Linked DNA regions of Homo sapiens. The protein of the gene in region 5 purifies or fractionates together with the protein of the main gene of each other region. This does not show direct contact. Each region holds a gene or a part of one and is shown on either strand. Other genes may lie near its edges.

Region 1 (4,369 bases), on a different chromosome or scaffold from region 5:
TGCCTACCCTGGCTTGCCCTCAACCCCCACACCCTCAACTCCTCTGCCCTACTCCTTATCTTTTTTATTCTGTACCTAGTAACACTATATATAATATAGTTTGTTATTTATTGTAGTTTCTCCTGACTAGCATGTGAGCTCATAGGGCAGCAAATTTTGTTTTGTTCATTGCTATACCCTAAGCTCCTAGAACAGTGCCTGGCACAGAATGATAGTCAATAAATGTATCAAATGAATAAACATGTTCTGCCTCATTTTCTGATGACTATTCTACCTTCTGTTTTCCCACCACACTGAAGGAACTGGAGGGAGGTTTGGTCTTATTTACGTTTGTGTTCTCCAGGGTGCCTGGCACAATGCATAGCTTGTAGTAAGATGCACAAATGCTTTTGTAATTGAACCATTCACACCACAAGGACCCGTCCCCGGCTGGTGTGGAGAGGAGGTGTTGCTGAAGGGCTTCCATGAGACCAAGGCCGGGGGTCAGCTTGGAAGCCTTGTCTCAGTTCCTCCCTCTGGACTGGTTCAGGACAACATTTATGGGTGGCAAGAGTGGTGCTCAGGGCCACGGATGGCTCGAGGACCACTGTTCCCCCTCCACTGTGCTGAGCCTCAGTATGCATACACAGAGGGCGGTGCCCCCGAATATGACTCAGGACAATACACAGGGCCTTTTCTGAGAAAGCCATGTGTTCACCCCAAGAGGAACTTCAGCTCTGACTACTCTCCTCTAACTGGAATTATGCACAAGATTCGGTATAACTGTTTTCTCTGGGTTCTCAAAGGCCTGTGTGGCCCAGAAAACATTAAGAAGTATTAGCCTGGAGGACCCCTGGGAGAACCCCAGAATCTTTCCACTGTCACCCACCACCACCTTGCTGAGCCCCCAGCAGGCCCAGTTCAGATAATGGAGCACACACAAAGCCTTCTGCAAGGCAGCACACTCACTCCCGCCTCTGTGTGTCTGCGACGAGCTCAGGGCAGCTGGCGGTAGAGGCCTCTTCCCACCATGCTGCCCTGGGCTCTACCCTTGACAGATGCTTCCAGACTTGAGGATAAATTTGAGTTTATTTTAGGAAAAAAAATGCTTAAAGCACAAATTACAGAGAGGAGGAGCTGAAATCCTTCAAAGGCCTGAGCTTCTACTCCTTTCCCTTAAGATTCCTCCAAAGCACCAGCTCCATAAAATCCTTCAGCTCCCCAGACCCACACCAAGAACCCCACATGTTAATTGGATCAGCCAAATCTACAAGCAGATAAGTCCTAAGGAGAATGCCGAAGCGTTTTTCTTCTTCCTCAAGCCTAGCATGAGTAAGCCCCCAAATTGCTAGTCTGGCAGAATGGCAGACTCTGCCTCCAGATCCAAATGATCACCTAGACACCCCCTCAGGCTCCTGGGCCTGGGACCACAGCTACGCAGCCGCCCCCACTCCTCTCAGAGCCGAGTGGAGTAGCCTGCCACCGCAATGTTCTCCCCGTTGACGTAGCTGGCATCTGGAGAGCACAGGAAGGACACGATTCCTGCACAGTCCTCTGACTCCCCAATCCTGGATGGAAGAAGGACACAGTGTCAAGCATCTTGTACTCTGATTCTGCTGCTCTGGGGCTCACGGATGACAGGTGGGAGTGGGCTCCATGGGGAACAAGGTGGATGCAGCAGGGCTACTTGCACCCTCCAGGGCCATGTGGACTCCAGATTTCAGCAAAAACAATGGCCAGATGACAGGGAGGGGTCTGCTCTTGCAATAGACTCAACTGCCCCTGCCTAGCCACACATGGACCACCAAATCTCCAAACCCCACTTGCCTCTGCAGCTGATGATGTTCCTTGAAGTTCTTCCAGAGAGACTCATTCCCATGAAACTGGGCAAAGGGAAGAAATGAAGGAGTCAGTGCTACTAAAACAAGATGGGCAGGGCCCCGGGAAGGCCACCAGGCAGAACACCTAGGGCAGCTTTGCCCTTCTCAAAAGAAGGAGCATCTTTTCAGGATGGATGGACTGCACCATGGCTGAGTTCAGAGAACAATGAGGACCTCAGTCATAGGCATGCTGACCTAAGGATTCAGTCACCCCTTGATCCCTTATTCACTGGGAAGGGTTCCCACTGAGCCAGACTGGGAGATGGAAGACACACCCAATCCTCACCACTTTGCTGAAGTCAGTTTTGATAATTCCTGGAACCACGCAGTTTACCCGGATGTCCTTGGGGGCCAGCTCCAATGCCAGTGTTCTAGTGAGACCCAGCAGCGCTGTCTTGCTGACATTGTAGACACCCAGCGCCTGGGAAGGGAATTGACAGAGTGATTAGGATATGGGAGAGTGGGGGAAAGCATCAGTTGGATTTCTCACCTACAGGGATCTCACAGGCCCAGCAGCCCTCCCACCCACATGGAGACAAGCTCAGCCCAGGGCAGCAGGAGGATGGTGGGGGTCTGTCCCAGGCACTTTGTCTGTAAGGCTCTGAGGAAAAGAACAAAGTTGCCCCTCACCCTATACCACTCAGGAGCACAAGGACCAAGCACTTACCACTACTGGATTATAAGCTGCAATGGAAGAGACCAGGATGACAGCACCCCTCCTGAGACAAGACAAACATAAGAGAAGCTGAAGCTAAGAGCTTACCACTGATGGTGACACTATCATGAGTTCATTAAATGATGCAACCCTCACAGAAGCAACACAGGTCCTATTACTGTCCCCATCTCAGAGTTCAGAAAACTGAGGCTCAGAAAGGTTTAGTACCAGCCAATACACGGCAGAGCTAGGATTCCATGCCTATTTCTCATAAATACGATGTCCATGCTCAGAACCCTTATCTTCTGCTTCCTCTCTTGCCAGGTGCTTGAAGGAGAGGGCAGGGTGGGCTTTGTGAAGAGGCACCCAAGGCTGATGGTGAGTGCCTATCAATGAGCAACCTCTAAGGAGCAGATGGGGTAAGGGAGACCAGAAGTGACAGTCAGGAACTTTCCTTCTACTGAAGACAGCCCCTGGCCAGTTCCTAAGGGTGTGTCTGTGAGGGGTACAGTCAGATCTGCAGGACCTGGAACACAGGCAGGGTCCCTGGAGACCAAGCGCAGGCATGAGGAGAGGTCTGGGACAGGCTTTTTCCTATGGAGAGGAATGGGGCTAACCCTGTCATTGGTTTTAAGTTGGTAAGAACAGAGAGCAGGTAAGGTGACAATGACCAGCCCACAAGGTCAAGGAGTTAAAGCATAGCCTTGTCCCAAACCTGCTGATGTCAAGGCCAAGGAGGCTATGCCTGGGCCCCTGGAATACTACTCTCATCCTGCAGCCACTGGAATTGGGAATGGCAGCCACACAGATGGGGAGGCAGGACAAGAAGATGAGGGATGTGGAGATCCCAGACCTCTTCTGTCCTCTACCCACTACTGGCTGTGCTACCGACTGTATTTCTGTGCCCACCTCAGGTCCCCAACTCCGACTGGTCCCCACCCCCGCCCTGCCATACCTGTTCTCCATGTAGGGCAGCAACTGGCTCAGCAGCAGGGCTGGGGACTTCACGTTCACACTTAGGATCTGAAATCAGAGCAGAGCATGGGTGAGGGCAGAGAGACATGGTCAGCCCAAGTCCTGCTCTCATAAGACACTTGGAGCCCTGTAATTTGTGCAGTAGACCCAATGTATGTGCATATAAGAGAAACCAATCCCCCTTCTGACTGGTGCAAGAGGTATTTCCAATTTGCTAATGGTTTCATAGGCAGGCAGGCTAAGTCACAGGCCTGTGAGCAGAGCCCTGAAAATGTGAATTGTTCAGGACTGACACGAGGAAGGAAATGTTCAGGCCTTTTAAAGAAAATGGGGACTGGGGGCAGTGGGTCATGCCTGTAATCTCAGCACTTTAGGAGGCCAAGGTGGGAGGATTACTCAAGGCCAAAAGTTCAAGACCAGCCTGAGCAACATAGTGAGACCTTGTCTCTACAAGATTTTTAAATAATTGGCCTGGTGTGGTGGTGCACACCTATAATCCTAGCTACTCAGGAGGCTGAGGCAGGAGGATCCCTTAAGCCCAGGAGTTTGAAGCTGCAGTGTGCCATGATCATGCCACTGCACTCCAGCCTGGGTGACAGAGTGAGACCCTGTCTCTTAAAAAGAAAACAACAACACACTGTAAGCAGAGGCCTCTGGAGAAAGACTGAAGACAGCCTGATGGAGGGGAAGCAGGTGCTAGAAGCAAGGGAGATTTCTGGAAGAGCCTTTTTTGTCTCTCTGAGCTTTCATTTGCTTGTCCTCTTACCTTGTCCCCATAGAATTTAAGGCATACTCACAATGCAACAGCATAAAATAAATCAAATAGGTACTATGTGTGAAGAAATGGAGAAAAGGAAAAATCAGTGTAGAAAAATAAGAA
Region 2 (4,481 bases), on a different chromosome or scaffold from region 5:
GGGCAAGCTGGGGAAGCAAGGCCTGCGGGCTGGTTCTCCTCAGGACACCTACATCTGAGCAGAATTCAGGCCCCTCCCATCATCCTAATCTTGTGGCCCTTCACAAGCTTCACAGAGGTGGCTTCGGTCTTGAGCAAGGAGGGGATTCGTTTTAGGGAGGGATGATTACTATTCTTGATTTAAAGTTAAACTCTAGATTAAATTCCTCCCGTGGTTAGCTTGGCCTGTGCCCGGGACTGAGTGGGGACAGCCACGCAAGTTAAACTCTAGATTAAATTCCTCCCGCGGTTAGCCTGACCCGTGCCCGGGACTCAGTGGGGACAGCCACGCAAGTTAAACTCTAGATTAAATTCCTCCCGCGGTTAGCCTGACCCGTGCCCGGGACTCAGTGGGGACAGCCACGCAAGTTAGACTCTAGATTAAATTCCTCCCGCGGTTAGCCTGACCCGTGCCCGGGACTCAGTGGAGTCAGCCACACAAGTTAAACTCTAGATTAAATTCCTCCCGCGGTTAGCCTGACCCGTGCCCGGGACTCAGTGGAGTCAGCCACGCAAGTTAAACTCTAGATTAAATTCCTCCCGCGGTTAGCCTGACCCGTGCCCGGGACTCAGTGGGGACAGCCACACAAGTTAGACTCTAGATTAAATTCCTCCCGCGGTTAGCCTGACCCGTGCCCGGGACTCAGTGGGGACAGCCACACAAGTTAAACTCTAGATTAAATTCCTCCCGCGGTTAGCCTGACCTGTGCCCGGGACTCAGTGGGGACAGCCACGCAAGTTAAACTCTAGATTAAATTCCTCCCGCGGTTAGCCTGACCCGTGCCCGGGACTCAGTGGAGTCAGCCACACAAGTTAAACTCTAGATTAAATTCCTCCCGCGGTTAGCCTGACCCGTGCCCGGGACTCAGTGGGGACAGCCACGCAAGTTAAACTCTAGATTAAATTCCTCCCGCGGTTAGCCTGACCCGTGCCCGGGACTCAGTGGGGACAGCCACACAAGTTAAACTCTAGATTAAATTCCTCCCGCGGTTAGCCTGACCCGTGCCCGGGACTCAGTGGAGTCAGCCACGCAAGTTAGACTCTAGATTAAATTCCTCCCGCGGTTAGCCTGACCCGTGCCCGGGACTCAGTGGAGTCAGCCACACAAGTTAGACTCTAGATTAAATTCCTCCCGCGGTTAGCCTGACCCGTGCCCGGGACTCAGTGGGGACAGCCACACAAGTTAGACTCTAGATTAAATTCCTCCCGCGGTTAGCCTGACCCGTGCCCGGGACTCAGTGGAGTCAGCCACGCAAGTTAGACTCTAGATTAAATTCCTCCCGCGGTTAGCCTGACCCGTGCCCGGGACTCAGTGGGGACAGCCACGCAAGTTAGACTCTAGATTAAATTCCTCCCGCGGTTAGCCTGACCCGTGCCCGGGACTCAGTGGAGTCAGCCACGCAAGTTAGACTCTAGATTAAATTCCTCCCGCGGTTAGCCTGACCCATGCCCGGGACTCAGTGGGGACAGCCACGCAAGTTAGACTCTAGATTAAATTCCTCCCGCGGTTAGCCTGACCCGTGCCCGGGACTCAGTGGGGACAGCCACACAAGTTAGACTCTAGATTAAATTCCTCCCGCGGTTAGCCTGACCCGTGCCCGGGACTCAGTGGAGTCAGCCACGCAAGTTAGACTCTAGATTAAATTCCTCCCGCGGTTAGCCTGACCCGTGCCCGGGACTCAGTGGAGTCAGCCACACAAGTTAGACTCTAGATTAAATTCCTCCCGCGGTTAGCCTGACCCGTGCCCGGGACTCAGTGGAGTCAGCCACACAAGTTAAACTCTAGATTAAATTCCTCCCGCGGTTAGCCTGACCTGTGCCCGGGACTCAGTGGAGTCAGCCACACAAGTTAAACTCTAGATTAAATTCCTCCCGCGGTTAGCCTGACCCGTGCCCGGGACTCAGTGGAGTCAGCCACGCAAGTTAGACTCTAGATTAAATTCCTCCCGCGGTTAGCCTGACCCGTGCCCGGGACTCAGTGGAGTCAGCCACGCAAGTTAAACTCTAGATTAAATTCCTCCCGCGGTTAGCCTGACCCGTGCCCGGGACTCAGTGGGGACAGCCACACAAGTTAAACTCTAGATTAAATTCCTCCCGCGGTTAGCCTGACCCGTGCCCGGGACTCAGTGGGGACAGCCACGCAAGTTAGACTCTAGATTAAATTCCTCCCGCGGTTAGCCTGACCCGTGCCCGGGACTCAGTGGAGTCAGCCACACAAGTTAAACTCTAGATTAAATTCCTCCCGCGGTTAGCCTGACCCGTGCCCGGGACTCAGTGGGGACAGCCACGCAAGTTAGACTCTAGATTAAATTCCTCCCGCGGTTAGCCTGACCCGTGCCCGGGACTCAGTGGAGTCAGCCACCCCAGACCTCTCTCACTGTTATCATTTTTGCACAGGTGGTTTCAGCAGCTTGATGCCAAAAAAAAAAAAAAAAAAGGAAAAGCATTCTGAAAAGCCATGTATGAGTGAATCATACTTAACTTGGCCTCCTTTGGCTGCACAGCCATGCCCTGAATCGCCCTTGTGGATCCAAGTGCATCTGTGTGGCTTGAGGCAGAGCTTCCCAGCCAGACCCAGTGTGAAAGGATGGGACGGCCACACAGGAACCTGGGCCCCAACTGCTCCCTCCAGACCTGGGTGGGACTTGCCCGCCATGCACACCCTGCTGGGGAAGAGGGAGTTTCTGAGAGTGACAGGAAGTGGCCCAGCCGGAGATTCAGCCCTGGGATCTCTGTGGCCAGCAACTGTGGGCGGGGGGGTATGTGGACATCTGCTTCCATTTTCCCCAAACCTAAGATTCTGTTCCCTGGTCTTCCCCTGGCATTTCTTCCTCGGGCCCAGAGCCCTCTCCTTGGGGCTCCCTATTACCCTGAGGGGAGGGCCAGCCCACCAGCCCAGGACCCCATCCTCATAGCCACAGGCCAGGCCAGCTCTGCTCAGGGCTGGCTCTCAGCTGCACTCTCCATCTACCCTGCCTTGTCCTCCATGTCTCCAGGCACCTCCCGCCAGCCCCAAGGATACCCACCTCCCAGACCTCCCTCTTCCCTCCACCCAAACCCCAGGGGAGTGCTACCCCTATGGCCCATGTGGCTCCATAAACCCCCTTGGTGCTGTGCCTGCTCAGGGTCCACAGGCCCTCCCTCCTCTTCCTCCTCCTCCTCCTCTTCCCCCAGCTCTGGGCTCCATCCGGGTGCCCCTCCCCTGTGGGCTTTAATCCAGCCCTCTCTCCAGGGGGACATGGCGACTGTGGGTCTTCCTGACTCACCAGCAGCTGCACCTCCCTCCGCCTCCGCCTTCATACCTCTCCCGCACTCCCTGTGCTGCCTGTGCCCCAAAGCTCTACCCAGAGTGTTCAGTAAAATCAGGGGCCACCGGAGGCCCCATCCTGACTGGGGGTTGGACCTGGGGTGTGGGCTGTGCGCTTGCCTCGTCCCTCTTAGGGCAGGGAGGCCACCCCTGGCCGGTGCCCCACTGCCCCACCACCCCGTGGCACCCACCCCTCCCCACTTCTTCATATTCCATCCCCCCTTGCCCATTGCTCCTGCGGCTGGGCAGTTCCATCCTGGGGGCCCCTCCCCAGCACAGTGCTGGCCCAGACAGCAATCCACGTTGACTAAAGACTCTCAAAGGGGCTTGCTTGCTTTCCATTTTAGATGGAAGGGAACTGAAGCTGAGTGCCTGTAATTCCTGCCCAGGGGTCTCACAGCAACCCTGGGGTCCTGCAGCCACATACCAAGAGCAGCCTGTGGCCCTGGGGTGGCCCTGAAGGGGCAGGTTCCTGTGGGGTCATCCTCTGAGCCGGTTTAAAATTATTCTGACAGGTGACGGCCACCCACGGACTCTGTCACTTGCTGGGATTCACACACGGCACGGAGGCAGAGTGGCAGCAGGTAAGGAGCCCATCCATCCCACTACCGAGGGGGTGCGTGGGGGAAGGAGGCTCCCCCAGGCCCCTGCCAGCCCCCACCCTCCATCTTGACCGCCCCCGCAGGAACTGGACCTCAGACCTGCCCTTGTAAAAATGACACAGATGTTTGCTTTCAACACCGGGCTCCCCAAATACTTCCAGCTGAATGTGTTCACTAAGGAAAGCGGTCTGAGTGCAGAGGCCGAGAGCCACAGCTGACACTAGCACGTGGCGCTTGGTCAAAAAGGTCCAATCAGCTAGAGACTAGGCCAGACCCAGGGCGGAGGCGGGAGCTCTGCGTGGAGTGAGTTCCGGGTTGGTTTCCTCCAGACCCATGCGCTCCGCCTACGGAGGCCCACGTGGGCTCCGGTCCACATGGTTAACACGCACGCAAGCCCGTGTTGGGAGCAAACTGCTTCTCTGAAAGTCATGAAAAACCTTTTTCATTAAAAAAAGAAAAAGTTTGGCCGGGCGCAGTGGCTCACGCCTGTAATCCCAGCACTTTGGGAGGCCGAGGCAGGCGGATCAACTGAGG
Region 3 (4,481 bases), on a different chromosome or scaffold from region 5:
TGTTTTTTTTTTAATTTTTAGTGTGCAGTGTCTTAAAAGGCAAAAACCTGAGACGATGTTTATTTATTTATTTATTTATTTTATTTATTTATTTATTGAGACAGAGTCACTCTGTTGCCCAGGCTGGAGTGCAGTGGCGCGATATCGGCTCACTGCAACTCCACCTCCCGGGTTCAAGCGATTCTGGTGCCTCAGTCTCCAGAGTAGCTGGGATTACACCACGCCCAGCTAATTTTTCTATTTTTAGTAGCGACGGGGTTTCACCATGTTGGCCAGGCTGGGCTCGAACTCCTGAGCTCAGATGATCTGCTCACCTCGACCTCCCAAAGCGCTGGGATTACGGGTGTAAGCCACAGCGCCCGGCCAATACAACCTCTTTTGGTCTCTAAATCTACACTCATATAAATGCTTTTTTGATAAAGTTATATTTAACTCGAACCCATTGTTCCTTTCTTTCTTTTCTTCTCTTTTTTTCTTTGAGACAGAGTCTTGTTCTGTCACCCAGGCCGGAGCACAGTGGCGCGATCTCGGCTCACTGCAGCCTTCGCCTCCCAGGCTCACGTGATTCTGGTGCCTCAGCCTCCGGAGTAGCTGGGACTACAGGCGCGTGCCTCCACACCTAGCTAATTTTTGTTTTGCTCTGTTGGCCAGGCTTGTCTCGAACTTCTTACCTCAAATGATCCGCCCACCTCAGCCTCCCAAAGTGTGTGAGCCACGCCCCAAGCCCCATTGTTTATGTTCTGCAAAAAAAAAAAAAAACAGTCTCTGTGAATCCATAAATTTGACAAATTCCTAGGTTAAACAGGTTTCTTCACCGTAGAAGTCAGAGGTTCTAATAATAAATGTCAATTGCATATAGCTAAAATTTTTCTGAATTTATGACTTCAGTGTATACTTTTATAATCAGTGTGGGACATAATACAATTTGGAAAATATTGCTTGAATACTATTTGAAGATTGAAAGTATAAGGAACTTGGTGGCCAGGCAAGGTGGCTCATGCCCGTCATCCCAGCACTTTGGGAGGCCAAGGCGGGCAGATCACTTGAGGTCAGGAGTTTGAGACCAGCCTGGCAAAAATAGTGAAACCCCATCTCTACTAAAAATACAAAAAATTAGCCAGGTGTGGTGGCGGGCGCCTGTAATCCCAGCTACTCGGGAGGCTGAGGTGGGAGTATCACTTGAACCCAGGAGGCGGAGGTTGCAGTGAGCCGGGATCCCACCACTGCACTCCAGCCTGGGCAACAGAGAGAGACTCCATTTCAAAAAAAAAAAAGTGTAAGGAGCTTTGTATAATTCGACATTTTAAAACACTTTTCAGGAATATTCTCTATACCATACCTCTATCATTTTACCTCATAACCTTTTCATTTGTACTTATTTGAAGATTTGGGGGTAACTTTCTGCCCTAGGAATGGACAAGCGTGCTCTTGTGTAAGTAGAATAATATACCGAAAATCCCATGACTTCTGGAGGCCTAGCTCTGCCATTTTACTAGATGTGACTTTGGACAAGCTACATACCTCTTAGGGCTTTATTTTCCTCTTGTATAGAATGGGAATTAATTGTTCTCTTACAAGGATGATAGTGGGATGTGTGTACATATACATAAAGCCTTGTCCCTGCCTCCTCACCCCTACCCTAGCATGCTGGGAGCTGGAAGTTGAAATTCAAAATCTTTTGTGAGTGGCTTGTATATAATCAACTTTTGTTAGATTGTGTATGCTTTTATTTCACACAACCCTAAAATCTCATAACTTTCAAAAACAAAAGATTTATTTTAAACTTTCATTACAAGTTTTGTAGTAGTCCTGTTCCAGGCTACAGATTGGTTTCAGCTTTTTTCATCTGAAATTCAGGTTTAAGAACAACATCCCTCTGGGACATTGCTGTTCTTTGTGAGAGGGGACAAAGATCAGAGAACTGGTGCAAAATACTCAGTACCTCTTAAGGTTCTGTTCAGATATGGTACACATCACATGTGTGCAAATCAAATCACACGGTCAAGCCTAATGTCACTGGGGTGGAGAAGTATTAGCTTGAGCCATATTAAATTGTTAATTTGTTTGGTTTTGTTTTGAGACAGAGTCTTGGTCTGTTGCCCAGGCTGGAGTGCAGTGGCACAATCTCAGCTCACTGCAACCTCCGCCTCCCGGGTTATTAGTGAGTCTCCGGCCTCAGCCTCCAGAGTAGCTGGGATTACAGGCGTGCGCCATCATGCCCTAAATTGTTAATTTGTGTAGGTCAAAAAAAGGTGAATATTGGCAGTTTCATATAGTTCCTCTTGCATGAAAACATTGCAACTCACATGAAAATGGGTGGAGCTATATAGTCATCTTATGATTAGAGAAACAAATAACTGGGAATAAATAAAAAAAATTACCTCAGCAGGAGAACATCATTTATAACTTTATATTTTTTGGGAAAAAAGTATATTTTACATTCTAATAAACTCTACATATTTTATGGGACATGAATGTCTGCACATATGTACTGAAATGTGTTAATGTGCACAGACTAAATAATATATTCTGTTTTCAGTTAACAGTATTAAATTTGACTTGTTAATATTTTCATTGTAGGTATATTGAAGCAAGTCAAAGATTACATTAAACAGTGTAGCAAATGCCAGGAGAAACTAGATCGATCCCGTCCAATATCAGATGTTTCAGAAATGTTGGAAGAATTGGGACTAGACCTTGAATCTGGAGAAGAAAGTAATGAATCGGAAGATGACCTGAGCAACTTTACTTCATCTCCAACTACAGCATCCAAGCCTGCAAAAAAGAAGCCAGTATCCAAACATGAACTTGTGTTTGTAAGTGGTACTCTCCAGTCAGCTTTAAGATTTGTAACTAGTGTACTAGTATTTGCAGCCTTGGTGACTTATTTTTCTCAAACCACTAAGACTGCTTATTGAATAAGACAAAATGGCAGTGTACTGTGTTATATAAGCTGAACTGCCTCTTCATTTATCATAAATGTTCCTGTTATTTTTTCAGAATGAACTTAATAATTACCTGTTGGTTTGTTGTTAATTATCCTCCCTCCCTTCTTTTGTGATGATATATTGGTACAAGTAGACAGATTTACATTTCTGGAAGCAGTCTCTGAGTTTACGCCCCAAGGTAAAATTAATCTGGCCAGGTCTTTGTTTTTCACCTGCATCAGTTTCATACATCATCATATTTCTGATTAGTAAGAAGAGGCAGCCAGAAGTGAGATACAGATTTTCATTAGGTGAGGTAGAATGAACATGGCAGAAAATAGGATAGGACAACATATCTTTTTATTTAAATACATAGGTAACAAAGAAAATATCAAATTATTCATACCTGGTAAAAGGTAATATGTAATGTGTCTTGTTTTAAAGCTTGTTAAGGGTAAAAAATACAGGTAATATGTTACTCTTGCTCTCAAACTTATTTTGACAGGTTGACACCAAAGGAGTGGTAAAACGTTCTTCTCCAAAACATTGTCAGGCTGTCTTAAAACAGCTGAACGAACAGAGACTTTCCAACCAGTTCTGTGATGTTACTTTGTTAATTGAAGGAGAAGAGTACAAAGCTCATAAATCTGTTTTGTCAGCAAATAGCGAGTATTTTCGAGATCTTTTTATTGAGAAAGGAGCTGTTTCCAGTCATGAGGCTGTGGTGGATCTTTCTGGTAAGGGTTTTGTATTACTCTTGCTTTTTGTTTGTAATGACATTCTAGAAGAGGGGGATATGTATGTCTTCCACACACGGACTTTATGCCAAAGTAAGAGAAGCCCACTAACAACAGTAGACTAAGCTGTACTGAAAAGGTTCTTTTTAGCAAGATTTCTGTGGTAGAGTTATGGAAAAGGGTGTCATTTCCTTTCACTACGTCTTAAGTGAGACAATTATAGCAGAAAAAGAATTTCTAGGATTTAAACTGTTAAAAACAGTTTGAGTGAAATCCATAAGTGCAACAAAATTATTACATTAAATGAATATGTTATTTAAAAATTGATTGTTTAAGCTAGGTGTGGTGGTGCCCGCCTGTAGTCCCACCTACTTGGGAGGCTGGGATGTGAGGATCTGCTTAAGGTCAGGAGTTCCAGGCTGTGGTGTGTCATTGTACCTGTGAATACCCACTGCTCTCCAGACGGGGCAATATAACAAGACCCTGCCTCTAAAAATAAAAAGCAAATAAAAATTGACTGTTTATGTCTTATTTTGTGGGACATGTAATTATAGAGTATTTTATAAGTCTTTTGGTTTTTAAAGATTAATCCTTAGAGTTTATTAAGTTCAATAATCAAATTATCAATATAGAAAAGTCAAAATCCCAGGTTTGTTTTTTGTTTGTATCATTATTGTAAATAAATAGTTCAACTTTCTTTTGGCTTCACTAGAATTTATATATTGGCTTATGAGTCATCAAATGAAAATTTAGGAAGAATTATAGGTAGCATTATTTATACGTTTTCTCATCATATAAAACTTGCTGTAACTTTTGA
Region 4 (4,481 bases), on a different chromosome or scaffold from region 5:
CCCAGAGTTATAATTGATGGGGCCTCAGGGCTGCCTACCATAGACCCAAGCTCTGGACTCAGCTTGCAATTAAGGGACTTCCTCAGTAGGGCATGGTCCCCAAAGGCTGCTTAAGGACCCCTGCCTTGGACAAACCTCTCCTAGACTTGATTTTTCAAGATCTGAGCTGTGTGACTTGTATAAATCACTTAACCTTTCCGAGTTAATTTTTCATCTGTGAAACTGGGATTAGTTGCTTCTCTCAAACTTAGAAAGGTAATGAGAAGCTTCAAAAGCTGGTTATAGCTGTGGAGAGGAAAGAAATGGCCTCCTGATGTATTCTCCCAGAGGACAGCATCAGTATTGTCTTTCTCCCTTCCAGGGGCGAGGAAAGAGTCCAGTTCCATATTCTATTCACAGAAAGTGATTGAATAGGTGGCACAAATGCACATGTGCAGTGTCAAGCATCCTCTCTTCTTCCCCAGGTACCTGGCCAGTGGCTCTGGAGACACCACCGTGCGCTTCTGGGATCTCAGCACAGAGACACCACATTTCACATGCAAGGGTCAGTATGCAATTAGCCATTTAGGGGGTCTTCTTTTTTTTTGAGACAAGGTCTTGCTCTGTTGACCAGGATGGAGTACAGTGGTGCAGTCACAGCTCACTTGAACTCCTGGGCTCAAGCCTTGAACTCCTGGGTTCAAGCAGTCCCCCTACTTCAGCCTCCAGAGTAGCTGGGATGACAGGCACTTGCCATCACACCTGGCTCGTTTTTTGTTTTCATACAGATGAGGGTCTCACTTTGCAGATTACAACCCCTTAATATCCAGTTGGCGGCTGTCTGTTCCTAGGTAGAGACCATGTCCTTGAGCCCAGCCAGCCACTTAGACACAAGCAGAAACTGCACCAAGGAGTCAATATGGGACATGGTGAGAGGCTGACTGACTGCTACCAAGGAGAACCTGGTTTAAATCCTGCCTCTGCCACAGTGGTTTTCAAACTTGAGCACAAATCAGAATTGCCCCGCCTCAGGGGCTTGTTAAAATGCAGATTGCTGGCCAGGCGTGGTGGCCCACACCTGTAATCCCAGCACTTCGGGAGGCCAAGGCAGGCAGATCACTTGAGGTCAGGAGTTTGAGACCAGCCTCGCCAACACAGTGAAACCCCATCTCTACTAAAACTACAAAAATTAGCCGGGCATGGTGGCGTGTGCTTGTAATCCCAGCCACTGGGGAGGCTGAGGCAGAAGAATTGCTCGAATCTAGGAGGCGGAGGTTGCAGTGAGCCGAGATGGCACCACTGCACTCCAGCCTGGGTGATGGAGTGTGACTCCATGAAAGAAAGAGAGAGAGAGAAAAGAGAAGAGAGAAAAAAATACAGATTGCTGGGCCCCACCCCCAGAGGTTTAGTTCTATTGGGCCTGGGGTAGGGCCTGGGAATCTGCATTTCTAACAAGTTCCCAGGAGATGCTGATGCTGCTGCTCTGACGACCACACTTGAAGAACCACTGCTATACCACAGATTAGTTAAGTGACCTTGTGTGTGTAGGGCATGTTCCCTTTCTAAGCTTCAATTTTCTCATCTGGAAAATGGGGATGATAATTCTTGCTTTGCTCCATAGCTTAGAGCTCTTGTGAGAAATAACAAGGGATGACATGTACAAAAACACTTCATAGCATGTGTCACATAAGGAGTCATTAGAGAGTGATGGTGTTATCCATGCAGCAAGATGCAGAGCTCTAACACTTGGGGTGCATTCTATCCATCCCCAGAAAGCCTCATCGCTCCTTTTGTTCAATCATTCATTTATTCAAATGGTTAAGGAGTACCTGGCACCTGACAGGCACTGCTGGGCACTTGGGATAAAGACAGATGTAGTCCCTTATTTCTCCCTCCTCTGCTTTCTTAGGACACAGACACTGGGTCCTTAGTATATCCTGGTCTCCAGATGGCAGGAAGCTGGCCTCAGGCTGCAAGAATGGCCAGGTAGGTAGTTCTCAGGGTAACTAGGCAGAGACTCAAGGGGGCCTTCCTAGGAGACAGTTCAGAATCAGGTTCAGGAGTCTTTGGGGAGGGTTGGGTGGGAAGTGGTAGGCAGGGATTTTGGTGGAGCCAGAGACCTGTTGGGGAGGATTATTCAGTGAGCTTCTGTCCTTCAGATTCTCCTCTGGGACCCAAGCACAGGGAAGCAGGTGGGCAGGACCCTCGCTGGCCACAGCAAGTGGATCACAGGCCTGAGCTGGGAGCCCCTCCATGCGTAAGTGACACTGACGGAGCTGGGACAAATGAGCCAGGGGATCAAAGCCATCCCCTTTCCCTGCCCAATGCATAGAAGTTTTACGTGAGGGGACAAGATGGGCAGCCTGAATGACCGTGATGGCTTGGCAGGCATGGGAGAAGGGTCTCGGGCAGACCTGCATTGCTGCTTGGGAGAGGCTCTCATCACAGGGTCTGCTGGTTGCAGTCACCTTGCAGTGCAGCCGGGTCTTGGTGTCAGAAAAGCTGTCAAAAGATTGTCCATGGCCTTTAAGTTGGGAATGGGGAGGTGCCATGGGCACACAGATGTTGCCAGGTCACAGATGAGGTCACATCTCCCTTCTCTCCAGGAACCCTGAGTGCCGCTATGTGGCCAGCAGCTCCAAGGATGGCAGTGTGCGGATCTGGGACACAACTGCAGGCCGCTGTGAGCGCATCCTCACCGGGCACACCCAGTCGGTCACCTGTCTCCGGTGGGGAGGGGACGGGCTTCTCTACTCTGCCTCCCAGGACCGCACCATCAAAGTCTGGAGAGCTCATGACGTAAGTGCTGGGAGGGTTCAGAAACCAGTCCAGAAAATCGCAAGTCACAAGATGCTGGCACTCAGAATGACCTTGACATCAGCGAGTCCAGTGTTTCCCAGATGTGTGCTGGGAGCCCTGGTCTAGGGAGGTGTTTTGGGAATGAGGAGTTCTGTGGTTGGTGCTGCACCATAGTGGAGATTGCAGAGTCCCCATGAGATCGTCACACTCTGGAAATTCCTCCTGTAGGACAGCTGTTGGGCTTTATCAGATCTACCATATCCCAAATGTATTGGACAGGAGCCGTTTACTCTGACATCCCTAACTCCTCTTCCATGAAACATTTTCATGATCTGGACTCCATTTTACAAGTGGGGAGAGACTTGACCCCAGAGGGGTAGTTTGATTAAGATCACAATGCATGAGTGATGATGATTATTAGTCTTGTACCACCTGTCTCCTGGGGCTAATCGCCCAGGCGTGGGGAGGAGTGTGTGTGTCTGACCTGACTCGCTCTCCCGTAGGGTGTGCTGTGCCGGACTCTGCAAGGCCACGGCCACTGGGTGAACACCATGGCCCTCAGCACTGACTATGCCCTGCGCACTGGGGCCTTTGAACCTGCTGAGGCCTCAGTTAATCCCCAAGACCTCCAAGGATCCTGTGAGTGATTGGGAGAAGGAAGAGCGGGGGCTGATTGGGAAGGAGCCAGTTCTCAAGCTTAATGGGGAGTGTTTGCTCTTTGTGTTGGATTTTCTTATCGGCCTTCTTCCTCATCTCCTTTTCTCCCCTCCGGTACCTGGTCACAGTGCAGGAGTTGAAGGAGAGGGCTCTGAGCCGATACAACCTCGTGCGGGTGAGTGTGTGCCAGCCACGTGCACCCCTAGCTCTGTACCAGTCCTTAGCCAATCACTAAAACCCTCTCAGACCCTTCTCCCTTCTAGACCCAGCTCAGAATGTACCTATTCCAAAAAGTTGTTCTTCATAATCCTAGTTTGCAATCCTAAAATACTAATGTGCTAGAGATCATTTTATTTCGTTTTTTGTTTAGTTTATTTGCTTGTCTATTTATTACATTTCCAACATGCTTCTTTTTTACTTTAATTTGTTGTTTAAGATTGTTCACACATTCACGTTCAAAAAATACAAAAGGTAGATCGCGGAGTCTCCCGTCTCTATTGTAGCATCCAGTGCCACCAGTATCCTGAATCACCTTCCAGAGATTTAATATACAGACACGTGTCTATATACAGTATATATGTATAAGCACACACACACATGCATACATACATAAAATCCTTCTTTTAACACATTATTTTGTGCCTTTTTCTGTAATTATGTATCTTAAAATTTTTTTCTACATGCATGTAGAGTTTCTTTTTCCTTTTGGATGAAGTGACTTGCCTGGGGTCACATGCGAGTGAGTGGCCAAGCCAGTCCTCATTGCTCCTAGCGCTGGCCTCTCTCTGTCCCTGGCATTGAGTAATCAGGGTGTATGCTTGCTGCCAAAGTCGGGCCCTCCTCCTTCTTTCTGAGACCACACCCAACACAGTGTGCTTTCTGCCTCCCCTAGGGCCAGGGTCCAGAGAGGCTGGTGTCTGGCTCCGACGACTTCACCTTATTCCTGTGGTCCCCAGCAGAGGACAAAAAGCCTCTCACTCGGATGACAGGACACCAAGCTCTCATCAACCAGGTGCTCTTCTCTCCTGACTCCCGCATCGTGGCTA
Region 5 (3,241 bases):
ATGGGAGAAACATTTGCAAGTCACATATCTGATAAGAGTCTATTTTCCAGAATATATGAATAAGTTTTAGAAGCCCACAGCCAAAATACAATCAACCGAATTAAAAAATGGGCAAAGGGCTTGAATAGACATTCCTCCAAAGCAGAGGTACAGAGGGCCAAGAAGCACATGAAAAGATGTCTTAGTCTGTTTTCTGTTGCCATAATTGAATACCCGACACTGAACAATTTATAAAGAAAAGAAATTTATTTCTTACCGTTCTGGGGACTGGGAAGTGACCCGGCATCTGGGGACGGCAGAGGGTATCACACGGCGAGAGGGCAAGAGCGTGTATGTCGTTTCAGGCCTCTCTTCCTATTCTTATAAAGCCACCAGTCGCATCCTGGGGGTCTCACCCCGATGACCTTATCTAATCCTAATTACCGTCTCAGAGGCTGCGCCTCCAATCAACATGTGAATTTGGGGATTAAGTTTCCAAGACACACAATTTGGGGGATGCACTCAAACCACAGCAACATCATTAGCCATTTGGGAAATACGAATGAAAACCACCATGAGATAGCACTTGACACCCAGTAGGATGGCTACTGTAAACAAAACAAAATGAGGCAAACAGAAAACAGGTTTTGATGAGGCTGTGAAGAAATTGGGACTCTCATGCACTACTGTTGGGAATGCGAAAGATTACAGCTGCTGTGGAAATCAGTTTGGTGGTTCCTCAATAAGTTAAACAGAATTACCACACGAGCCAGCAGTTTGACTGCTAGAAATAGACCCAAAAGAACTGAAAAGAGATATTCAAAGAAAAACCTGTAGAGAGATGGTCATGGCAGTGCCACTCACAATAGCCAGAAGGGGGAAATAACCTGTCCATCAACTGACGAGTGGGTAAACAAAATGTGGCCTCCTATTCATACAACAGAATCGTACTCAGTCATTCAAAGGAAGGAAGTAGTGATTCATGCCTCTACATGGATGCACCCTGATGAAACCATTACGCTAAGTGAAAGCAGCCAGACACACACGGCCTCACATTTGGTCGTATAATTCCATCTATAGGAAATCTCCAGAACAGGCTAACCTCTATGGACAGAAAGCAGATGGACTAGGGGTTGCCAGGGACTATCGGGAACGTGTGTATGGGCGGGGGCAGGGGGTGTGTGTGGGAGGGTGTGGGGGCTGGTAGTGGTGGTGTGGAAGGAGGCGTGCGGCAAGTGACTGCTTATAGGTACAGGGGTTTCGGTTTCTTTTCGGGGTGTTGAAAACGTTTTGGAACTAGGTGGTCGTGATGGATGTGCAACATTGTGAAGGCGTGGTACCCGTCCTCCCCTCGCCCACCCCTTTGTCTTTCCCACGGTGTTCCCATCCAGTAGAAAGGGAAAGTTCCCACTGGCAAAGAGAGGGTCACCAGCGCGATTCCCCCTGCCCCGCCCCACCCCACCCCCACGGCCCTCCAGCCACTTCTAGGCCCAGGCCTGCTCCCTCGAGGCCAATGGGAAAGTGATGAGGTCACCTGACGGACGTGTGTCCCTTGTGAGGGGCCGTCACCACATGCGTGCCCGTCGCCGGATGTGCGTGCCCATTGGTCTCGGCTCCCTAGCCAATGAGGGGCTGGGCCCTGGTCGCTAGGATACACAGTACTGGACGCGGTAACTGTCCTCTTGAGAGCCATCTTGCCTAGCTGGGCCAAGCCGAGATAGCACACTCAACGCCCAGCATGCCGAGGAGGAGGAGACGCCGAGGGTCCTCCGGTGCTGGCGGCCGGGGGCGGACCTGCTCTCGCACCGTCCGAGCGGAGCTTTCGTTTTCAGTGAGCCAGGTGGAGCGCAGTCTACGGGAGGGCCACTACGCTCAGCGCCTGAGTCGCACGGCGCCGGTCTACCTCGCTGCGGTTATTGAGTACCTGACGGCCAAGGTCCTGGAGCTGGCGGGCAACGAGGCCCAGAACAGCGGAGAGCGGAACATCACTCCCCTGCTGCTGGACATGGTGGTTCACAACGACAGGCTACTGAGCACCCTTTTCAACACGACCACCATCTCTCAAGTGGCCCCTGGCGAGGACTAGCTTCTGACACCCGGCCCCTGGGACCTGACAGGTCCACTCGTCCACCCACCCGGCCCCAAATCCCCCGGCCTGAACCCCCGGCCTTAAACACCCTCCCCCCACAACCCAGGCCCCAAAGTCTTGGGCCTTCATTAATTCTGTCAATAAAATGTTTCAAGGAAGCCATCTGCCCGCTTCAGTCACTTTGCCTTGGGGTGGGGGTGGGGGGGCGGTGAGATGGGTTGGGGGGTTGTGAGACCTCCACAGCTGGAGGGATGGAGAGGTGGTGGGGGTCTGGGGTTGGGTGGGAGCCAGGGATGGCACAGAGGAGCCGTCTCTCCGGGTGACAGTGCAGGGGAGTGGCCCTGGGTGGGAAGGGGACACCCCCGCTGGTTCTGAGCAAGTCAGGGCCTGCCCGGGAAAGTCCTCAGCATGATGGTGTTCGTTGGGGCGGGTGGGCCTCAAGACCATGACTGCAGTGTTGCGACAGGACGGACTTCTAAGGCAACCGGGGTGGGGACGGAGAGGTGGACCCGGTGCTTGGCAAGGGGCCCTGGACCGGAAGACGGAGGACTGAGTAGTCGGGGCGGGGGGGGGGGGGGGGACAACAGTCCAGAAATGCGCAGACATGGAATTAGGGTCACGAGTTTCCTTTGGGTCATGTTCAGATGGAGAGGCTGTGGGATGCCTTTAGCAACCTAGACCACTTGCATTGCAGCCGAGCTAGCAGCAGCTGGTGCCCCGCCAGGCCCCGCGTACCTTCCCAGGGTCTTGGATCCGCATCCCCGAGACCCTCGATTTGCATACGCCGCTCACAGCCCGGCCAGGCCCCGCCTCCGATCCCGCTCTTTGCACCTCACCAGGGCAAGGGGCAGGCTCGGGCTGGGGAGCCGGCGCGGGCACGGCGGCAGCCCGCCGAGGGGGACGCAGGGCACGTCGCCCCGCCCCGGCCCGCCCGCCAGCTGCGGCGGCGCGTCGGGAAGTGCTTGGGGCGGCGAGCATGGCGGCAGCGGCTGCAGGCCTGGGCGGCGGCGGCGCCGGCCCGGGACCCGAGGCCGGGGACTTCCTGGCCCGCTACCGGCTGGTATCGAACAAGCTGAAGAAGCGGTTCCTGCGGAAGCCGAACGTGGCGGAGGCCGGCGAGCAGTTCGGACAGCTGGGCCGGGAGCTGCGCGCCCAGGAGTGTCTGCCCTACGC
Region 6 (4,481 bases), on a different chromosome or scaffold from region 5:
TACCTGGGTAAGCCAGGGAAATTGACTTCTTGATGCTCCAATTTCTTGATCTGAATTGTAGAAAGTCATAGCTGTCACTGACATGAGAGGCTCGGTGTATCAGTACTTGCAGAGCACTTCAGACAGTACCTGGCATGTGGAGTTCCTCAGTAAGTGGCAGCTATTACCATTACAGTATTACAGACTCATAATGATAGACTGTTAGAGTATTGTATTCTAGACTTGAAGGGAAAGAAAGCCCAGGCTAAGGGGTGACGTGTAATCTACTTCAGCAAACTCAGCTAGGCAGTGACAGTTGTCTGAAATGCCCGAGCTCCCAGGTGCCGAAGGGCAGCACCCAACGCCTGGGTGCCATGGCAGGTGTGAAAATCACTCTCTTTCCCACACAGGTGGAGTTCTGCAAGTCATTCGGGGACCCGGCCAAACCCAGAGCCTGGAGCAAACATGCCCAGAAACCAAGCCAGCCCAAGCAGCCTCCAAAAGACTCTACTACTCCAGAAATTAAGAAAGTATGTAAAGGGTCACTCTAGCCTCTGTCCCCACTGCCAGCAGGGTAGTCACTCACTTTTGGTTCCCAAAGATGGGCCCTCCCAGGTCAGTGCAGTTCTGTTTCCCAGCTCTCTTCATCTGTGTGACCCTCACTCTCTGTGCCTTCTGTTTTCAGGATGAGAAGAAGAAAAAGGTGGCAGGTCAACTGGAGAAGGTGAGTCTGTCCTGTTGCCCAAGGAGGAGAGAGGGTGGGCAGCAGGTGGAAGAGGGTGGAGACTGGAGAGGGTAGAGGCTGGGAGAGGGTGGAGGCTAGGAGACCGTAGAGGCTGGAGAGGGTGGAGGCTAGGAAAGGGAAGAGGCTGGAGAGGGTGGACACTGGGAGAGGGAAGAGGCTGGAGAGGATGGAGGCTGGCCCTGGCAAGCAGAGCTGTGCCTCTGGTCTCCCCTGGCCTTGTCTTCTTGTCCTCTTAGTTTTGTCTAGTGAGGAGTCAACTCTGCCTTCCTCAGAACTGACCCAGCTGAACCTCGGGGTCCTCCAGAGAATGGGGGAAATTAGCTTGAGGGATCTTCTCACCCTCTTAAGAGTTAGAAAGATCAAGCCCCACCTGAGCCTTCTCTGCCTCTTCCTCTCTCTTTTTCCCGTGTCCCTGCCGCCCGGGTTCTGGTGCCACCAGCTGAAGGAGGATACAGAGTTCCAGGAGTTTCTGTCAGTTCATCAGAGGCGGGCGCAGGCAGCCACTTGGGCGAATGATGGCCTGGATGCTGAGCCCTCGAAAGGGAAGAGCAAGCCGGCCAGTGACTACCTGAACTTCGACTCCGATTCTGGGCAGGAGAGTGAGGAGGAGGGAGCCGGGGAGGACCTGGAAGGTGAGGGCATGGGGACTGTGTGCTCCATGCGCACGGACCTGTGCTTGCCATTGGGCTAACCGGCACTGGGGGCCCCTCTGTGCAGACTCTAGGAGTCAGGTGAGCCCTTGAGCTCTCCATTGGGGGTGATGATCCCTCTGCAGGTGCATCTGTCTTCACTGATCCTAGTTGTGTATTCAGTCAGTCAGTCAACAAATATTTCTTGAGCACCTATTATCTGCCAGGCATACTTCAGGCATTGGGACCATGTTGATAAGCAAAAGACAGAAGGGTTTATTCCCCTATGGAGCTGTGATTATGGTTGTGGAGAGAAACAATAAGCAAATAAGTCCACTGTTGGGTATATCATAGGATGATGAATGCTACAGAGAGAAAGCAGGAAAGGCGACAGGAGAATTATGAGGGAAGGCCTCCCTGAGGAGGTGAGGGAGTGAGCCTTTGTCCTCAGAAGGGGTTTGTGGTGTGGGGGAGGCCTGGTGGGCAAGAAAACAGTTGCAACACAGGAGGGTACGTGCTTGGTGGAGAACTGGGCATCTATTTGGGTCTAAAGGTGAGAAGATGTACATTTAGTGCAGTTATGCCTGGTAACGTTTCTGCACTAAGTTCACATCCGAGGAACTCAGGGGACTTAGTGGGACACGGTAGGGGAGGGGAGAGGAAAGGGGTTCCAGTCAAGGGAACAGCATCGCAGAGACACAGAGGAAAGGAAAGTGCATGGGCTTGAGGGGCTCAATGTGGGTTGGGATGGCTTGAGCAGGAGGAGACAGTGGAAGAAGCCCACGCAGCCAGCCCTGATGAGGAGCCTGGATTTCACCCTGAGCATTCAGAAACCCCTGGAGGGTATTAAGCAGAGACTGACCGTCCTGTACCTACTCTGTAAAGTGTCACAGAGGCTGCCGTGTAGAGGACTAGGAAGACATGGCTGGTGGCAGGGAGCCAGGAGCTCAATGTGTGGCACAGAGAATATCAAAGCTGCAGTAGCCCTGCCCCGTTTTGGTATTGCTAATCAGAGGACTTATGGGGGATGCTGGGCACAGGGGCCATGGACACGGTGGGCATGGTGCCTCAGGCCTCTCACTAGGAGGACCATCTACCATTTGCTACCTCTGACCTCTGGTTTGCTCATAGCTGTCGCTGATCCCAGCTTCCCTGTTTTTCCAGAAGAGGCAAGCCTCGAACCAAAGGCAGCTGTGCAGAAGGAGCTGTCGGACATGGATTACCTGAAATCCAAGATGGTGAAGGCTGGGTCGTCCTCTTCCTCGGAGGAAGAGGAAAGTGAAGATGAAGCCGTGCACTGTGATGAAGGGAGTGAGGCCGAGGAAGAGGATTCCTCCGCCACCCCAGTCCTGCAGGAAAGAGACAGCAAGGGTGCAGGCCAAGAGCAAGGGATGCCAGCTGGGAAAAAGAGACCACCGGAGGCCAGAGCCGAGGTGCGTGTGTATCCCGCAGGTGATGAGGGAGGAGGTGCGCTCTCCTGCTTGCCCGTGGTCCCCACAGCTCCTCTGTTAGGAGAGCGGAATGTTGGGGAAAGACGCAGCTCTGCAGTCCAAAGCCTTCCCGATCTTGGCCCTGCCGCTTGCTCGCCGTGTGTTCTTTCTGCGTTTCTTTTCTGTTTTTATTTTTATTTTATTTTATTTTATTTTTTGAGACAGAGTCTCACTCTGTCACCCAGGCTGGAGTGCGGTGGTGCAATCTCAGCTCACTGCAACCTCCGCCTCCTGGGTTCAAGTGATTCTTCTGCCTCAGCCTCCTGAGTAGCTGGGATTATAGTCACACCCAGCTAATTTTTTGTATTTTTAGTCGAAATGGGGTTTTGTCATGTTAGCCAGGCTGGTCTCAAACTCCTGACCTCAAGTGATCCACTCATCTCAGCCTCCCAAAGTGCTGGGATTATAGGCATGAGCCACTGCACCCAGCCTCTGCATTTATTTTCTGTTGCTAACCTGGAGAGGTCACCTGCCTTCCAGAAATTGCCTATAAGTAGGGTGACAACTAAATTATTGTCAACACTAAGTTAAAAGTGAGATGCTAGTCCAGTGGGGTGCCAGGCTGTGGATGTAGTTACTGCAGGTCTAATGACTACAGATAGAGTGAACAACTATCCCGGGCAAACTGGAGCAGCCCCGGTCAACACACCCATATCCCACCAATGGGGCAGAAGTGAGCTGAGTGATGGCTTTGAGCCTTTATCCTTTGTATTTAGTAACAACACAGGCAGAGGGGTGCAGACCAGTCATCAGCAATCATAGGGAGGATCAACTGAGCCTGCGCTACACACTAGGCACCATGCCTGCCGTGCCGTTGCATCTCATCACTATCTGGAGGGCAGTATTGGTCTTGTTCCATTTTACAGATGAGGAAACAGGCCTGGAGAAGGAAGGTGCCTCAGCCAGGGTCATGGCTGGGAAATGGTGGGTTCAGGACTTAGCCCCAGGTCTGTGGGGTCTGAAGTCGAGATCATAAACGTGGGCGCTTCCCCAGAGGTCGGCCAACTCGTCTCTGACCTGGGAGTCCTCTCTGCATCAGAGACAGAGCAGTTTGACATGTTGTCCAGGTCCCTGTTCCCTCCTTTCTCTGTGAAGCATCACTTCTCTCCCTGCCTAGCCCTGTATTTTTTTTTTTTTTTTTTTTTTTTGAGACAGTCTTGCTGTCGCCCAGGCTGGAGTGCAGTGGTGTGATCTCAGCTCACTGCAGCCTCTGCCTCCCGGGTTCAAGTGATTCTCATGCCTCAGCCTCCCGAGTAGCTGGGATTACAGGCACACACCACCACACCCAGCTAATTTTTGTATTTTTAGTAGAGATGGAGTTTCACCATATTGTCCAGGCTGATCTTGAGCTCCTGGCCTCAAGTGATCAACCCACCTCAGCCTCCCAAATTGCTGGGATTACAGGCCTGAGCCACTGCACCTGGCCCCAGCCCTGTATTTTCAAATGAGATGAAAGCAAGCTTCATCCTCTTTTCTTTCCTCTTTTCCCTTTCTTCTTCCTCCCTCCTTTTATTTTCTGCCTCTTCTAATTATGCACTCTGTCCTTTTCTTCCCCCCCAAAATTGTATATTTCAGTGAGGTAGTAGAGTGTGGGGAAGTCAGAATTATGAGTTCAAATCCTAGTTCCATCATTTAGTG
Region 7 (4,481 bases), on a different chromosome or scaffold from region 5:
GATGTTCAAGGATGCAGATCTTGCATAAATGTCAGAGACAGCTTCCTGATTCCTAGAATGGGTCATGAACAGAATGGGCTGCCTCATGGGATGCAGGAGGTGTGCAGGGAGAGGCTGCCAGTCCACCTGCCCGGGACTGTCAGGAAGTCCATGTATGGCGGGAGTGGCCTTTAAGAGTTTTTGTGCTCCAGGAGTCCTGGGTCTGTAAATCAGGTGAAGTCTGCACATTTCATACTGTCTTGCAAATGATTCAACAAACCTGAAACTTGATTTCATCTCTTTCTTTAATCTGAAAATTCATAAACTTGAGATTTTGTAAAAAATAAATTTGTAAGATGGAATATGTCCGTTTTTACTTTATTAATATTAGATATTTGAAGTTGTATTTAATTACTTAGGTAAAAGAATCCTTAGGGAACAAAGAACTGTTGTTATTGGTAGGTTAGTCTGAAGCTGACAGTCATGGCTAAAGAAAGCCGACATGTAAAACCAAGTCATTATTTCAAGCAAAGAGGAAAATAACATATTCTGAGAGAACCCAAAACTCCAGAATAACAAGCACTGGCTACTCAAGGGATGCTTTTATATTCATTTGTAAATCAGAAAAGAAGGCCAAAGAAAATAGAGGAATTGGATGTTCCTTCTCCTAGGGGAAGTTTGGACATCATGCATTTAAGCACATTCCTGTAATGGAAATAAGAAGCAACAGGCAAGAGATCCCTAGTGCTGTGTAGCCTGTAATCCGCAATCAGGCAGAGACTCGGGGACTCAGAGACTCGAAAGGCAAGGGAGGTAGGAAGTAATTGTGGTAGAGGTGATGGATGGAGCAGCATTCTCATTTGGAATGGGAACAGGGCGTAGGAATTTTCTCCAGGCCGTCTGAATCTGGAGGAGCAGCTTGAGAGGAGAGAATGAGAGAGATCCAGGCGCTAGGGTAGAATGGTAATGAATGTTTCCGCTTCCTGGGCACGGGCTGAGATGCGCATTCCCCCTCGCCCCTCTCTCCTGTGCGGTCTCCAGTGTGCTTTGTTGGTGGAGAGAAAAGATTCGTTTTCCCCCACCCCTCTTTTCTCCTTGGGTGAATGGGTTCCTAGGAATATGGATTGACACACCCTTCACAAGGTGGATTCTTGCTTCCCTTAAAACAGACTCCATTAGTTAACATTCAACTGGAAAAATGCTGCTTCTTCATCCTTACCTTATCTTGATTGATTTAACAGTTAAGAATGGCTGGTGAGGTCTGGTAGATGAGTGAGCTGAGACTTTTTTCTTTTTTCTTTTCTTTACCTTTTGGAAGAAGCTGAGTCAAAGAGTCTGATTGCAAACCCTAAACTGTTGCTTGACATATGGGGCATAATGATCTCTGCAGGGAGAGATGCAATTCTGTGGGCAGTCAGGCTTCACTCCGAGCTCTGTTTTCATGGACTAATGCATCTCTTGTTGATCTTTCCTTCTGGGAACAACGCAGCAAGCAAAGGCTACGAAAAGAAAATACCAAGCGTCCAGTGAGGCTCCCCCAGCGAAACGGAGGAACGAAACTTCATTTCTCCCAGCCAAGAAAACTAGTGTTAAAGAAACTCAGAGGACTTTTAAGGGGAACGCACAAAAAATGTTTTCTCCAAAGAAGCATTCGGTTAGCACAAGTGATAGAAACCAGGAGGAGAGACAGTGCATTAAGACTTCATCACTGTTTAAAAACAACCCTGACATTCCAGAACTCCACAGGTATGTCCAGGGGCGGATGCCCTTCAGGAAGAAAAAAATGTGTTCTGCCTTTTCTTTGTTAATATTGGCACTGATGCCTGGGTTCTTGTTCATCATTTGCAGACCTGTGGTAAAGCAGGTGCAAGAAAAAGTGTTTACTTCAGCTGCTTTTCATGAGCTGGGCCTCCACCCACATTTAGTAAGTACCTTTCAGTGTTTTCTGGGTCAGTTTTTTTTGGTGTGTTTGTCCGTTCAGAAGGTCTGTGAAATGGCCGCTCTAGGAGGAGAGATCAGAGAGTGTTTGTTTCTGCTCTAAGTTACCTGAATGAACTCAGATTGATATGATACTCTTCTAGGACAGTTCAAGGGTGCTTAGGTTACTGTTCACTGTTTTCTGGCCCCCCCTTCCCCCATCCTCTGTTTTTTTGTGTTTTTGTGTGTGTGTTTTTTTAAGTATTGAAGACTTTCCTCGACTAACGTGATTTAGGGTCAGGACATCACTTGCTAAACTTAAAACAGCTCCCTATTTACTGGATAGTTGTAGTGGTGAAGCCATTTGTGGTGGCAGATGTCACAGTGGCCATAGGAGAGGGAACTGTGCTGGCATCTTGCTGTTAAAGGACGTCCACAGTTTTAGAGAAGTAAGGGAAGAAGAGTATTTTGGTGTGTGTTCTACAAACAAATGGACACTTTAAAGGAAAAAAAGTGAGTTCTCCAGACTCATGAGTAAGAAGAAAAAAATATATTAACTTTTAGGCAGGCTTGGTTTCCTCTGCACTTTCGGTTACAGCTTACTACCCCTTCTGTAGGGTGGGTTACCTAAACTTGTTTTCTCACCTGGGGGGTGGATCAGGGTTTCTCAGCCTTGGTGCTGTGGACATTTTGGACTAGGTCAGTCTTAGTTTTGGGGACTGTCCTGTGCACTGTAGGATGTTCAGCAGCATCCCAGGCCTCTACCCACTAGATGCCAGCAGTGCCCCCCTCCCCTGGTTATAACAAGCACAAATTTTTCCAGACTTTGCCCTGTGTCCCCAGGGAGTTAGGGCGGGTGGCAGAATCGCCCCAAGTAGAGAGCACCACCTGGGTGGAGGAACTTAATTTGATCATAGTAGTCAATGTTCTCTCAATAGTTTCTCCTTTCTTGTGTAATTTCCGTTAAATATTTTGTATCAAAATATTAATTAAAGCTTTTTCATCTCCTCTTTTAGATTTCCACAATAAATACGGTCTTAAAAATGTCTAGTATGACCAGGTAAGAACTTCAGGCTCCTCTTGATTTCTTAGGCATTACGTGGGTATAACCGGACGAAACCTGTGTGTGCAAGGCAGAGCAAATTTGTGTCTTGGCGTTGGAACACAGTGCCAGGTTATCGACCATAAAGGGTTGTCGTCTCACTTAGCTACTCATTCTCTCCACCTGTTAAATGGAAAGACTGGCTTTCCATCCAGTTCTGCCCTTGGCTCTGAACCGCAAGAGACGTCTCATCCAGAAGGTGGGCTGCATGAGCGCCGCTGTTTTCTGTGCTTCCCTGAAAAGAATTTGGCCAAAATATAGCATGTGACCATGTCGTTTCTTAGTAGTAAGAATTAGGGTCAACCAAAAAGACAAGAGTAAATGTTCAGTTGGATAGAGTGGGATACTGAAAAAATGTTTTCAATGTTTGTTACAGGGAATGACTCCTGGAAAATAAAGAAGTAAAATAGGTGCGAGGAGATGAGCTTCCTTGTTTTGAGTATTTGTGCTTCTGTGCATTTTCATAATGATTTTTTACTTTTACTAGTAAAAATTAATAGGAATATTAAAGTCCAAATTAAGGGACCTCCCCACAAGTTTTTTATCAACCAAATTTAAGTGATTTTTGTGTCTCTTTTGTTTCTTGTTTTAAAATACATGTGTAGACACACATTTCAGCATGTCCATAACCTTTTCCTGGAGAATGGACAGCTGCTGCTGGCTCTCTGAATAGTTGGCGAGCTTCCTCCTGCTATCCTGCATGGAAACCTTTCCATTATGTTTCGTTGTGTTTCATATTCCTGTTAGTGAGGGCAAGAGTGTGTGATACACTTGGTGGTAACTCTGATTTGTTGTCATGCCTGTTTCTTTTTCTTTTTTTTTTTTTTTTTGAGACGGAGTTTTGCTCTTGTTGCCCAGGCTGGAGTGCAGTGGTGCGATCTTGGCTCACTACAATCTCTGCCTCCCAGGTTCAAGCGATTCTCCTGCCTCAACCTCCTGAGTAGCTGGGATTACAAGTGCGTGCCATCACTCCCAGCTAATTTTTTGTATTTTTAGTAGAGATGGGGTTTCATCATGTTGGCCAGGCTGGTCAAACTCCTTACCTCAGGTGATCCACCCACCTCAGCTTCCCAAAGTGCAGGGATTACAGGTGTGAGCCACTGCAGTCGGCTGCCTGTCCCATTTTTAAAAGAATTAGTTTAATAGAATGGCCAGTCTCTGGTTTGCCTCACCATTTTCAGGCTAAGTTCTAAAAATATAACTAGGGTTTGATCTTTATAATCATCAAAAGTTTCTTCACACCTTTATTTGAATGCTTTGATAGCTTCTAAGGAGGCAGTTGCCAGATGAATCCAAGTGTGGGCAGTTGCCTTTTATGTATCCTGCGTCTCTGCCAGTAACTGGGTAATATAGGTAAAGTGTGTTCTTTTTTTCGGGTGGCCCAGTGTTCAGAAGCAAAGTATTCCTGTGTTGCTGGAAGGCAGAGATGCTCTCGTGAGATCCCAGACGGGCTCAGGTTAGTCTCATTTCATCTCTGCCCTTT

The links.
Region 1: the proteins of H2AB3 (region 5) and DHRS2 purify together in Homo sapiens (affinity purification with mass spectrometry, with the first as the bait; one large-scale study listed by BioGRID). This does not show direct contact.
Region 2: the proteins of H2AB3 (region 5) and YBEY purify together in Homo sapiens (affinity purification with mass spectrometry, with the first as the bait; one large-scale study listed by BioGRID). This does not show direct contact.
Region 3: the proteins of H2AB3 (region 5) and ZBTB11 purify together in Homo sapiens (affinity purification with mass spectrometry, with the first as the bait; one large-scale study listed by BioGRID). This does not show direct contact.
Region 4: the proteins of H2AB3 (region 5) and NLE1 purify together in Homo sapiens (affinity purification with mass spectrometry, with the first as the bait; one large-scale study listed by BioGRID). This does not show direct contact.
Region 6: the proteins of H2AB3 (region 5) and RBM19 purify together in Homo sapiens (affinity purification with mass spectrometry, with the first as the bait; one large-scale study listed by BioGRID). This does not show direct contact.
Region 7: the proteins of H2AB3 (region 5) and DDX31 purify together in Homo sapiens (affinity purification with mass spectrometry, with the first as the bait; one large-scale study listed by BioGRID). This does not show direct contact.

What each region holds. Positions count from the first base shown.
Region 1 is NC_000014.9:23,642,320-23,646,688, reverse strand, and holds the end of DHRS2 (dehydrogenase/reductase SDR family member 2, mitochondrial), read right to left. Parts: exon of another isoform or gene 4,251-4,369; intron 3,538-4,250; coding exon 3,470-3,537; intron 2,579-3,469; coding exon 2,527-2,578; intron 2,281-2,526; coding exon 2,146-2,280; coding exon of another isoform or gene 2,135-2,145; intron 1,863-2,134; coding exon 1,807-1,862; intron 1,548-1,806; coding exon 1,436-1,547; coding exon of another isoform or gene 1,387-1,435; 3' UTR 1,050-1,386; downstream 1-1,049. UniProt on the Homo sapiens protein: NADPH-dependent oxidoreductase which catalyzes the reduction of dicarbonyl compounds. Displays reductase activity in vitro with 3,4-hexanedione, 2,3-heptanedione and 1-phenyl-1,2-propanedione as substrates.
Region 2 is NC_000021.9:46,292,302-46,296,782, forward strand, and holds part of YBEY (endoribonuclease YbeY), read left to right. Parts: exon of another isoform or gene 1-217; intron 218-3,860; coding exon 3,861-3,929; intron 3,930-4,481. UniProt on the Homo sapiens protein: Single strand-specific metallo-endoribonuclease involved in rRNA maturation.
Region 3 is NC_000003.12:101,670,313-101,674,793, reverse strand, and holds part of ZBTB11 (zinc finger and BTB domain-containing protein 11), read left to right. Parts: intron 1-2,580; coding exon 2,581-2,816; intron 2,817-3,432; coding exon 3,433-3,664; intron 3,665-4,481. UniProt on the Homo sapiens protein: May be involved in transcriptional regulation.
Region 4 is NC_000017.11:35,135,298-35,139,778, reverse strand, and holds part of NLE1 (notchless protein homolog 1), read left to right. Parts: intron 1-464; coding exon 465-544; intron 545-1,888; coding exon 1,889-1,965; intron 1,966-2,138; coding exon 2,139-2,236; intron 2,237-2,585; coding exon 2,586-2,778; intron 2,779-3,281; coding exon 3,282-3,417; intron 3,418-3,563; coding exon 3,564-3,610; intron 3,611-4,327; coding exon 4,328-4,481. UniProt on the Homo sapiens protein: Plays a role in regulating Notch activity. Plays a role in regulating the expression of CDKN1A and several members of the Wnt pathway, probably via its effects on Notch activity. Required during embryogenesis for inner mass cell survival.
Region 5 is NC_000023.11:155,458,404-155,461,644, reverse strand, and holds H2AB3 (histone H2A-Bbd type 2/3), read left to right. Parts: upstream 1-1,639; 5' UTR 1,640-1,717; coding exon 1,718-2,065; 3' UTR 2,066-2,230; downstream 2,231-3,241. Other genes in the region: F8A3 (40-kDa huntingtin-associated protein), read left to right, coding at 3,045-3,241. UniProt on the Homo sapiens protein: Atypical histone H2A which can replace conventional H2A in some nucleosomes and is associated with active transcription and mRNA processing.
Region 6 is NC_000012.12:113,956,087-113,960,567, reverse strand, and holds part of RBM19 (probable RNA-binding protein 19), read left to right. Parts: intron 1-389; coding exon 390-509; intron 510-664; coding exon 665-703; intron 704-1,163; coding exon 1,164-1,356; intron 1,357-2,517; coding exon 2,518-2,786; intron 2,787-4,481. UniProt on the Homo sapiens protein: Plays a role in embryo pre-implantation development.
Region 7 is NC_000009.12:132,659,683-132,664,163, reverse strand, and holds part of DDX31 (ATP-dependent DNA helicase DDX31), read left to right. Parts: intron 1-746; exon of another isoform or gene 747-792; intron 793-837; exon of another isoform or gene 838-939; coding exon of another isoform or gene 940-942; intron 943-1,468; coding exon 1,469-1,725; intron 1,726-1,827; coding exon 1,828-1,903; intron 1,904-2,912; coding exon 2,913-2,956; intron 2,957-2,963; exon of another isoform or gene 2,964-3,197; intron 3,198-4,383; coding exon 4,384-4,454; intron 4,455-4,481. UniProt on the Homo sapiens protein: May have DNA helicase activity and RNA helicase activity. Probably have ssDNA and RNA dependent ATPase activity. Plays a role in ribosome biogenesis and TP53/p53 regulation through its interaction with NPM1.